Linked DNA regions of Homo sapiens: region 1 is linked to region 2. Evidence: fine-mapped expression QTL. Tissue or cell type: skeletal muscle. Region 2 holds a variant in brackets; the other region holds the start of a gene. All regions are shown on one strand. Distances are between the middles of the regions.

What was found. PIP is the estimated chance that this variant, and not a neighbour inherited with it, causes the effect.
Region 1: it holds the start of TARBP1, and the variant in region 2 is fine-mapped to the expression of TARBP1 in skeletal muscle (GTEx, PIP above 0.99).

What each region holds. Positions count from the first base shown.
Region 1 is chr1:234,477,156-234,482,449 of GRCh38, forward strand. TARBP1 (tRNA guanosine 2 -O-methyltransferase TARBP1) reads right to left here and starts at 2,024. Exons shown (of 30, transcript NM_005646.4): 1 at 1,018-2,024. The coding sequence starts at 1,948. RefSeq lists silencers at 1,121-1,920, 1,951-2,140.
Region 2 is chr1:234,439,951-234,445,244 of GRCh38, forward strand. All of the region lies in intron 12 of TARBP1 (tRNA guanosine 2 -O-methyltransferase TARBP1), which reads right to left. Among named protein-coding and RNA genes, the nearest start is that of TARBP1, 37 kb to the right of the region's middle. The variant CA/C (reference allele first, on the strand shown) is at 2,113.

The DNA.
Region 1 (5,294 bases), 37 kb after region 2:
GCCTGGGCAACAAGACCGAAACTCCATAAAACAAACAAACAAACAAACAAAACTGCAAAATAACAGACTCATGTAAATAAATGAATGTTTTAATTTTTGATGATTTAAAAAATGTTTTCCAGTGAAAACTCTCAGGGATGATCACACCTATCTGTGGACTGTTCAAATATTTACTCTCTAATGTTTTAAAATTACTTGAAAATATAACCTCATAACTTCAGCCAAACAAAAATCCTTTACCTGTAATAAATGGTCAGCTACCGTTGAAAAAGTAGAAATATTCTATTGAGACAATTTTGAGTCAATCTACTTTGTACTTGACAGTTTAAACCCAAATTTAACATGAGTGAAGTCAAACCAATCAACAGTAACGTAACAACTTGAAGGGAGGCCTTGCTGTTTCATTACTCTTGCACATAGTAGGGAGCAAAGCTCAAACAGTTAAAAAATAAAATCTGATTCATTCTATTAAATCAATGGCAAAAATACACTCAAAAGGTCGACTTAAGAAACATGTTTAACAAATATTAGTAAATCCTGTTCCTAATTACCAGGGGAAATTTCAGAAGAGTGTGATGGCCTCTATGACGCTTAATTCTAACACTCAACACTCAATTCACTAATTCACTGGTCAGTACAGATAAATAACAAATAATTTTTCTTTCAACTTGATAGATATCAACCGTTTCTATTGGGTTGAATCTACCATGATATAGTGCAGATTTGGGTCTGTAAAATCTTGCACGGGCTCCATTATCTTCCTAAACTATTCCAGGGGTGCTGTATTCCACCGGCTCTGGGTTAGAACGTTCCCAACCGCAGTGATTTGTGACTTCAAAGAACACCCTCGAGAAGGGGTTCCAAAGGTTTTCAGGCTTTAGGGGAGCAACGCGGAATAACCAAATTCTGCATGGATCGGAGTGACGACCCCGATAAGCTAGTTTTTAGAAGCAGGAAGACTCCCCTCTGGGGCAGCCAAGTAGGTAGCACTAGGCTGGGGGGCAAAGAGGCAGGTACCGTTTCCTTCCTGGGGCCCGCAGGTGCAGTCGGCCCCCAGCTCCGCCGACACCTCCACCGCCCTCTGCAGCAGGTAGCGCGCTCGCTTGCGCGTCAGGGCGTCCGCCTGGCCCAGCCCCGCCTGCACCGTCCTCCAGAAGCGCCAGCAGCGCCGGGCGTCCGGGCCCGCCTCGCGCGCGCCGCGGGCGCGGTCGCCGCCGGGCTCGGGCAACAGCTTCTCGGCCAGGGCGCTCAGGACCAGCAGCTTCTCCTCTACGCGGCCGGACCCCAGGGACGCCCCAGGCGCGGCCAGCCCGCCCCACACGGCCCGCAGCGCCGCCCCGCCACATTGGACCAGCACTGGCAGCAGTCGCCCGGCCACCAGCGCCGCCGCGTCCTCGGCAGGCCCGGCCTCATCCCCGTCCCCGCCCCCGCCCAGCGCCAGGGCGACGGCGGTCCCCGCCACGCGCTCCAGTAGCGGCCCGTCCTCGCGGGGCCGCAAACATGGCCCGACGGCTGCTAGCACTTCCACGGCAGCCTCGGCGCCAGGCGCGCGCCACCCGGCGAGCAGATCGCGCAGCGCCTCCTCAGCCAGCGCGGCCGCCAGCTGCGGACGCCCGGCCAGGCGGACGCACGAGCGCAGGGCCGCGCCCGCCGCCCTCAGCACGCGCCGGCGGTGGCGAGGCTGCAGACTGGGGTCCGGGCCGCCCGCGGGGCGTCCGCGCAGGCTCCGCAGCAGTGGCACGAGGTACCCTGCAGCCACCTCGCGCGCCGCCTCCGGGAGCGCGCCTGCGCCCCCGCTGCCGCGCGCCTCCTCGTCCTCGAGCCGCTGCAGAAGGAAGCGCAGCGTCTCCACGCGCTCCGCGGATGCCTCCCCTTGGCACAGCGCCCCAAGCAGGGCCCGGGGGTCCCGGCTCTGCGAGAGCAGCGCTTCCGCGAGCACCCACTCCATTTGCCGAGCGCCCGCGCCACCGGCCCGGGCTCCCAAAGGAAGGCGCCGGCGTGTGCGATGCGTGCGCACAGGACCGGCCGGCCCCTACGTGCGCGTGCGCCGACGGAGCCGGGCGCGCGGCCGCAGAGAGGGGGATCCCAGCCCGGCTTGGTGCAGCTCAGCTTCCCTTGGGTTCCTGCCACCAACCCTGCCTAGATAGAACCCACCTGGTCTCTTATTTTTAGGAGAAACGAGGCCTTCGTTAAAAGTTAATGTAGTATCTACACCAGCTTCATCGATTCCTGATTGGAGGTTGGTCTGCCCAGGACCCTAAATCAGGCGTGCCTGTGAGCATAAACCAGTTCACAGAAGGTGCACAGCAGAATCACTTTAGATTATTTTCCAAACGTTGCATGATGGGCACCATCCACAAAGAGACTGACACAGTAGGTCTGAAATTGGTTCTGGACATCTGCATTAAAAATAAGTCATGAAAACACAAGAATGATTTAGACGTAAGGCCAGGAGTGAGAAGTGTTACCGGTGGAGGGTGTCCAGGTCCAAGAATTGGACAAAGCGCACAAACAAAGCAAAGACAGAATGAAGCCACAAAAGCAGAGATTTATTGCAAAAGTACACTCCACAGGGTGGGGGCAGACCCAAGCAAGCCGCTCAAGGGGGGCTGGTTACAGAATTTTCTGGGGTTTAAATACCTATAGAGGTTTCAATTGGTTACTTGGTGTACACACTATGTAACTGAAGAGGATAAAATGAAGTTACAAAGTTATTTACTTGGTGTACTCCCTATGTAAATGAAGAGGATATTTCCTGTCATAGCTGAAGTGTTTCTATCTGATTTGGTTCTAGGGAGTTTTTGGATTCCCTGCCTCCAGGCCCTATTCTCCTGCCTTAGAGGTACCTATAGCAATGTGCTAGGATTCAGCTAAAACCAAGATGCCCACGCCAGCCCTCACAGCCAAGTGCCCAAGATGACTCCAGGATGCAGAGCCTCCTGCACAATGCATGTGCTCCCATGTGCAAACTCAAAAATAGTCCCTGTGTCTGTCTTTTCTGTATTTCTGACAGCATCCATTGCTAAATAGAGAAACAGAAAACCTCACCTCGGCATGCATGGTGTGGATTTGGTTCCTGGCTCAATTTGAGACAAACTAGATCAGTGACATAGGGTTTTCTTCGCTACTAAACACAAAGATCTGCCTCTTAGTCAATAGAGAAAACAGGGTCCCAACTTCAAAGAGCTTGACATATAATAACATAATGGATAAGACAAAAATTAGTTATTTAAATTTACAGTTATTTTTATATAAAGTTATCTGACTTTAAGGTTATCTGACATTACACAGGCAAGACTTTTTTCATATTTCAGTCATTCCGTTTTTCATTGACAAAATGCATAAATGTTTCTATTTTAAGCCCTTTTAACATGTCAGTAAATATCAATTACCTTCAACATAAAATGTGCAGAAAACTATTGTTTCTGTCAACATATATCTAACAAATATAAATGGGTAAATGTCTTGAGCACTTAACAAACGAAGATACACAAATGATAAGCACTTGGAAAAGTGTTCAACATCATTAGTCATCAGAGAAATGCAAATTAAACCCACAATGAGGTACCACTTCATACTGATGAGAATGGCTAACATGTAAAAGCTCGAAAACACTAAACGGCAAAGACCAAGGGTGTGGAGCAACTGGAATTCTCATACATTACTGGTGGGCATGAAAACGGTACAGTCACTTTAGAAACTGTTTCTCGTAAAGTTATAATATAGCTGCTTTATGATTCAGCGATTTCACCCCCAGGTAATTACCTAAAATAAATGAAAACATGTTTCAAAAAAAAAAGCTTGCAGAAGAATGTTTTTGACAACATTATTCGTTATAGCCAAAAGCTTATAACAACCTAGTAGGTGTTAGGTAACAACCTACATGTGCATCAAATTGAAGAATGAATAAAAAATTGTGATCTATCTATATAATAATGCTCCCAGCAATAAGACAATGAATTGCTAATCCGCTTTACATGGATAAGTCTCAGAAACAATATGTTAAACAAAGGAAGCCAGTCACAACGTTTACATCCTCGTGATTTCATTTATATGAAATCCAAGAAGAGACAAAAGTAATCTGAAGGATAGAAATGAGAACAGTAGTTGCATATAGGGAGTAGAGATTTGACTAGAATTGGGCACAAGGGAACTTTCTGGGGTGATGAAAATATTTTATGTTGATCAGGGTGTTGTTACACATTTGTCAAGACTCCTTGAACTGAACCCTTAAGATCTATGCATTTCGCTCTGCAGAAAGTTTACCTCAATCAGCCGGGCGCAGTGGCTCACACCTGTAATCCCAGCACTTTGGGAGGCCGAGGCCGGTGGATCATGAGGTCAGGAGATTGAGACCATCCTGGCCAACATGGTGAAACCCCATCTCTACTGAAATACAAAAAAATTAGCTGGGCATGGTGGTGCACGCCTGTAATCCCAGCTACTCGGGAGGCTGAGGCAGGAGAATTGCTTGAACCCAGGAGGCAGAGGTTGCAGTGAGCCAAGATCACACCACTGCACTCCAGCCTGGAGACAGAGTGAGACTTGGTCTCAAAAAAAAAAAAAAGAAAGTTTACCTCAATCTTGAAAAATGACTTATACCAAAAAACAAAACAAAACAAAACAAAACAAAAAAACAAGTTGGCCTATGTGTTTTATTCTCTGTTGCCTTCAGAGTAAAGCCTAACTGCAGAGCACAGCATTGAAGGCTTATTGGGATTGGGGAAAAGCCAGCTGGCCTCACAGCCTGACTCCCCCTTCTCTGCCCCAGGTCAGGCATGTGGAACTCTCCTTCTTACCCACAACATGTTTGCACTGTCTTCTCTCCCGGAATATTTCCCGCAACACCACTTTTCTGATTCACCAATGTGGGCAGCGATTCCTAATTGCCAGAGCTGCCCTTTTTCGTTCTTACCTGAATGGACTCTGTGGAGTATTTCCTATTTCTTGAAACACTATCTCACTCTGGTTTTCATCGATGACTTTGTCCTGTTCTTTCTTTTCTCTGCTTCCTCAGCTGTTTCTTCTCCCTTTCTTTCAGCATCTTATTTTTCCTCCTGACCTGTCCATAGTGATATTTCCAGGGTTTTATCTTCAGGTCTCTCTTCTCCTCACTCTGTAAATTTTCTCTGAATAACTTCATTAACACTATAGATCTGATTACCATTTACATGCTAATGATGAAAAAGTCTGTATCTCCAGCCTAGGTCTCTCTCCTGAGACTTATCCTTAGGAGATAGCTCGAAACCTATTTCTCCAACTGCCTACCACACGTCTTCATTTGAATATTATTC
Region 2 (5,294 bases):
CTTTTCCAGAGTACATGAAACATTCACCAAGATAGGCCATATCCCACATAAACTTAAAACAATTTTAAAAACTGAAATCATATGATATATGCTCTGCGACCACAATGTAATTAAATTAGAAAGCAGTAACTAGGAAAGTCTCCAAAGATGTTCTAAATAATTCATGGGTCAAAGAGAAAGCTTCAAGGAAAGTTAGAAAATATTTTGAGATGAAAATGCAACATGCCAAAATTTGTGGGATATAGTTAAAGCAACACTTGGAGGAAAATTAATAGCACTGTCATTTCAGAAAACAAGAAACGTCTAAAATCAACAATCTATGTTTCTGCCTTAACACTAAAAGGAAAAAAAGGCAAAATAAACCAAACCCAAGCAGAAAGAACCAAACAACAGAAATCAATGAAATTGACCAAAAAAAAAAATCTATAAAAAAAAAATCAATGAAACCAAAAGCTGGTTCTTTGAAAAGGTCAATAAAATGATAAACCACTAGCAAGCCAGAGACAGAGACAGAGAGAGAGTGCACATGAGTAAGCACGCACACACACACACACAAATTATCACTATTAGGAATAAAAAGACAGAGCTTACACTACAGACCCGACAGGCATTAAAAGGGTAAGGGAATACTACAGACAATTCTACTGCCCCTATTCACAGATGACATGATTATCTACAAAGAAAATCCCAAGGAACCTTCAAACAAACCAACTCCTAGAATTACGTCCTTCAGCAAGGTTACAGGATACAAGGTCAGCATACCAAAATCAATCATATTTCTATATACTAGTAACACACAGTTAAAAATTGAAATTTTAAAACTATCATTTACAACAGCTTCCCCTCAAAAGAAATAGTTATAAATCTTACAAAACCTGTGTAAGATCTATACGCTGAAAACTGTAAAACTGATGAAAAAAATCACAGACAACCTAAGTAAATGCAGAGACAGGCCAGGCGTGGTGGCTCATACCTGTAATCCCAGCACTCTGGGAGGCTTAGGTGGGCAGATCGCCTGAGGTCAGGAGTTTGAGACCAGCCTGGACAACACGGCAAAACCCCATCTCTACTAAAAATACAAAGATTAACCAGGCATGGTGGTGAGCACCTGCAGTCCCAGCTACTTGGGGGGCTGAGGCAGCAGGATTGCTTGAACATGGGAGGTAGAGGCTGCAGTGAGCTGAGATTGCACCACTGTACTCCAGCCTGGGTGACAAAGTAAGATCCTGTCTCTAAATAAATAAATGTAAGGAAATACCATATTCATGCATTAAAAGTTTCAGCATAAGAAAGCAATTCTCCACAAACTGATCTATGCATTTAATGCAATTCCAGTCAAGATCCCAGCAGGACTTTTTTTTTGTAGGTACATATAAGTTGATGATATAATTTATATGGAAAGGTAAAGGAACTAGAATAGCTAAAAATATTTTTGGACAAAAACCACACTACCTATTTTAAGACTTATTATAAAACTACAGTAACCAAAACCTTGTGGTATTGGCAAAGGAATAAACACTTAGATCAAAAGAACAGAATAGAGTCCAGAATTACATCAACACAAATACAGCCAAATTAATTATTTGTCAACAATTTTTTGGGATAGAATTCACAGAGCATTCAATTCCCCCATTAAAGGTATCTAATTCAATAGTTTCTCGTACAGTCACAGATATGTGCAACTATCACCACAATCAATATTAGAACATTTCATCACCTCAAAGAGAAACCTCATACCCTTTAAATCATCGGGCCCTTAACCCCTATTTTCTCCCTGCCCTAAGCAACCCCAATCTATTTTCTGTCTCTAGAGATTTGCCTATTCCGGACATTTCATTTAAATGAGATCATATAATATGTGGTCTTTAGTGATCACCTTTCCCTTAAGATAATGTTTTCAAGGTTTATCCACGTTGTAACATGTATTACTACTTCATTCCTTTTTATGGCTGAGTATGTATAAACCACATATTATCCATTCATCTACCCATCTACTTTGGATTGTTTCCATCACAGCCAATTAATTTTTGACAAAAGTACAAAACAATTCAACAGAGAAAGGATACTCAGTCTCTCCAACAAATGGTGCTGGTGCAACTACACCAGCAAAGG[CA/C]AAAAAAACTAACCTTGACCTAAACCTTACACCTTAGAAATTAACCCTAAAAATATCATAAGTCTAAAAGTAAAATAATAAACGAAGGAGAAAAATCCTGTACGACCTGGGGCTAAGGCAGAGTTCTCAGTCGTAATACCTACTGCACGATCCATAAAACAAAACAAAAATAAACTGGATTTCATCAGAATAAAAACTTTGGCTCTGCAAAAGACACTGTTGAGAAAATGAAAAGATAAGCTGCAGACAAAAAGAAAATATGTGCAAACCACATATCTGACAAAGGACTAACTTGGCAGAAGATTTAATAGACACTTCATAAAATGCTGTATCTATCACTCTGAGAAGTGTTCATTAAGAGATTACATACATTAAAAATTAATTTTAAATTTTCATGTTACCCAGGGGCTATATTATATAGCCTCTGGAGTATCTCATGAGTCACTTGCCAGGTCAAGAAGCCACCAGCAAATGATTGGAAAGTAAAAGCCTTTATTAAAAAATTAAAAACTATAACCAATGAATATGGGAAAAACAGAATACTCTTGTCTTGCATATTCCATACTACTCTTTCTGCCTTTTCTTTCTCCTATATATATAGTCAACTCCTTAAATATCAAACTTACATTAATAGCATAAAATAGATTTACTTTCCTCATATATAATCAAACCCATTCAATTAAAATAAATTTGAGATTTCAAGGGAAAGCTTAGGCCTTGGAGAAGAGAGAACAAAAAGACTTGAAGAAAAGTAGCTGCCTTCAAGGTATCCAATATTATCATCCCTACCCCAGTGGCTCCTCTTAATTACCGCAATACAGAACAGCCTCTATCTCACCCTCAAGGCACATTCCCTGGTCACTGCCACATCTCTGAATTTAACACCCTGTCACAATATACAAACTGTGGGCAAAAGTTCAAGCCAGAATAAAAATTATGGTTTGGGGCTGGGCACAATGGCTCATGCCTGTAATCCTAGCACTTTGGGAGGTCGAGGCAGGCGGATCAGCTAAGGTTGGGAGTTTGAGACCAGCCTGACCAACATGCAGAAACCCTGTTTCTAATAAAAATACAAAATTAGCCAGGCATGGTGGTGCATGCCTGTAATCTCAGCTACTCGGGAGGCTGAGGCAGGACAATCACTTGAACCCGGGAGGCAAAGGTTGCGGTGAGCCAAGATCGCACCATTGCACTCCAGCCTGGGAAACAAGAGCGAAACTCCGTCTCAAAAAAAAAAAAAAAAAATTATGGTTTGGTTTCCTAGTCTATGCCTCATATAATGTATAGTAGTAAACTGAATCCCAACAGAAGTGGTACCAGAATTAGTCAAAAAGCAATCACAGTCAAAATCATGATGAAGTAGCACTTTATACCCATTAGGATGGCTATTATTTTTAAAAGCCCATTAACGAGTGTTGGAGAGGATGTGGAAAAACTGGAACCCTTGTGCACTACTGGTGAAAATGTAAAAAGGTACAGCCACTGTGGAAAAGTGTATGGCAGTTCCTCAAAAAATTAAACAGAATTACCATATGATGCAGAAATTCCACTTCCAAGAGAATTGAAAGCAGGGACTCAGACATTTGTACACCCATGTTCACAGCAGCATTATTCACAAAAGAGAAGGTGAAAAAAATCCAATTGTTCATCAACAGATGAATGGATAACCAATTATAATCTAGCCAAACAACAGAATATTATTTGGCCTTTAAAAGGAATCAAAGCATGATACATGCTACAACATGGATGGACCCAGAAGACATGGTGTTCAGTGAAATAAAAATAAGTCAGACACAAAAGGACAAATGCTGTATGATTCCACTTCTAGGAGGTACCCAGAGGAGTCAAACTCATAGAGACAGAAAGTAGAATGGTGATTGCCAGGGCCTGGGGAAAGAGGAAAATGGGGAATTAGTGTTTCACAGGTACAGAGTTCCAGTTCAGGAAGAGGAAAATTGGAGATGGATGATGGTGATGGCTGCACAACAGTGTGAACGTACTTTCTATGTCACAGAACTGTACACTTAAATATAGTGAAAATGTAAATTTTACTTTATGTATAAAACTATCTATGCATAAAACTAACTATGTATAAAAACCTACGTCAGGAAGAAAAGTTCCAATAGACAAGAGATTACTCCCACAAAAAAAGCGAGACTCAGCAAAGACCAGACCCACCAAAGTGACAAATTCAGCCAGTAGTGAGGACAGAAGCAGTATACTGAAGGCTCATATAACCCAGTGTAATGAAAGGGAAGCTATATTGTAACTAAAAGTATGTTTCCTCAAATTTAAAAGTAAACATTATACAGTTATTGCAGATTAAACATATAATCATGGAAACATCATTTTAGAAAAACTGTATCTGCAGAATGACAATCCCTGAATCTCATCTGATTAGGCACAGTAAAGTGGTATTGCACATCACAGGCTGGAGGAAAACACAGCCGTCTGGACTACCATCACTGTGAATTCACGATCGCAACCTCAAGGGCGTGCTCAGCAAGCCCAGCAATCCTACAGCACTGCCTCAGAGCACTCACAAAGCCTCTTTCCCAGACAGATGCTTATACCCTGTCCTCACACTGCCAACACTTCCATCCCCACCCTCACTCTATCTCCTCTTTCCTTAAAAAAAAAACAGAATAAATTAGAAAAGAACTTCTACGACCTCCTATATCCACCCACCTACCTGCACCTACCTCTCTCTATCAGTGCTCCTTCTAGAACCTTCTAGAACCACTTGTGCCCTGGATTCCATACACTCTCACCTATGCTTGGATGCCAGTCAGCAAACACCACCCCTTTATGTCTTCAAACCTTCCCTCAATGAAATCATTTCCATCAGCACATAAACATGGTTATATTCACCTCTTAAGGAAACAAAAACAACTTCTCGTTCCTCACCACCAACGGCCCCATTTCTCTGCTGCTCTACATAAAAAACTTGCTATTTTACTCACTATTTTCATTTCTCTCCGAGTGGCCCCCACTACTGCCCCAAATTGCTTCCGTTGAGGTCGCCGCTGATTTCCATGTTGCTAAATTGGATGGTCAATTCCCAGTCCTTCTGTTAGGGCATCAACAGCCTCTGGTGTGGGATCCCACCCTCCTCCCGGAAACACGTTCTTCGCTGGCTTCCTGGTTTTCCTCTTCTCTGGCTATAAATTCCCCTAGGTAC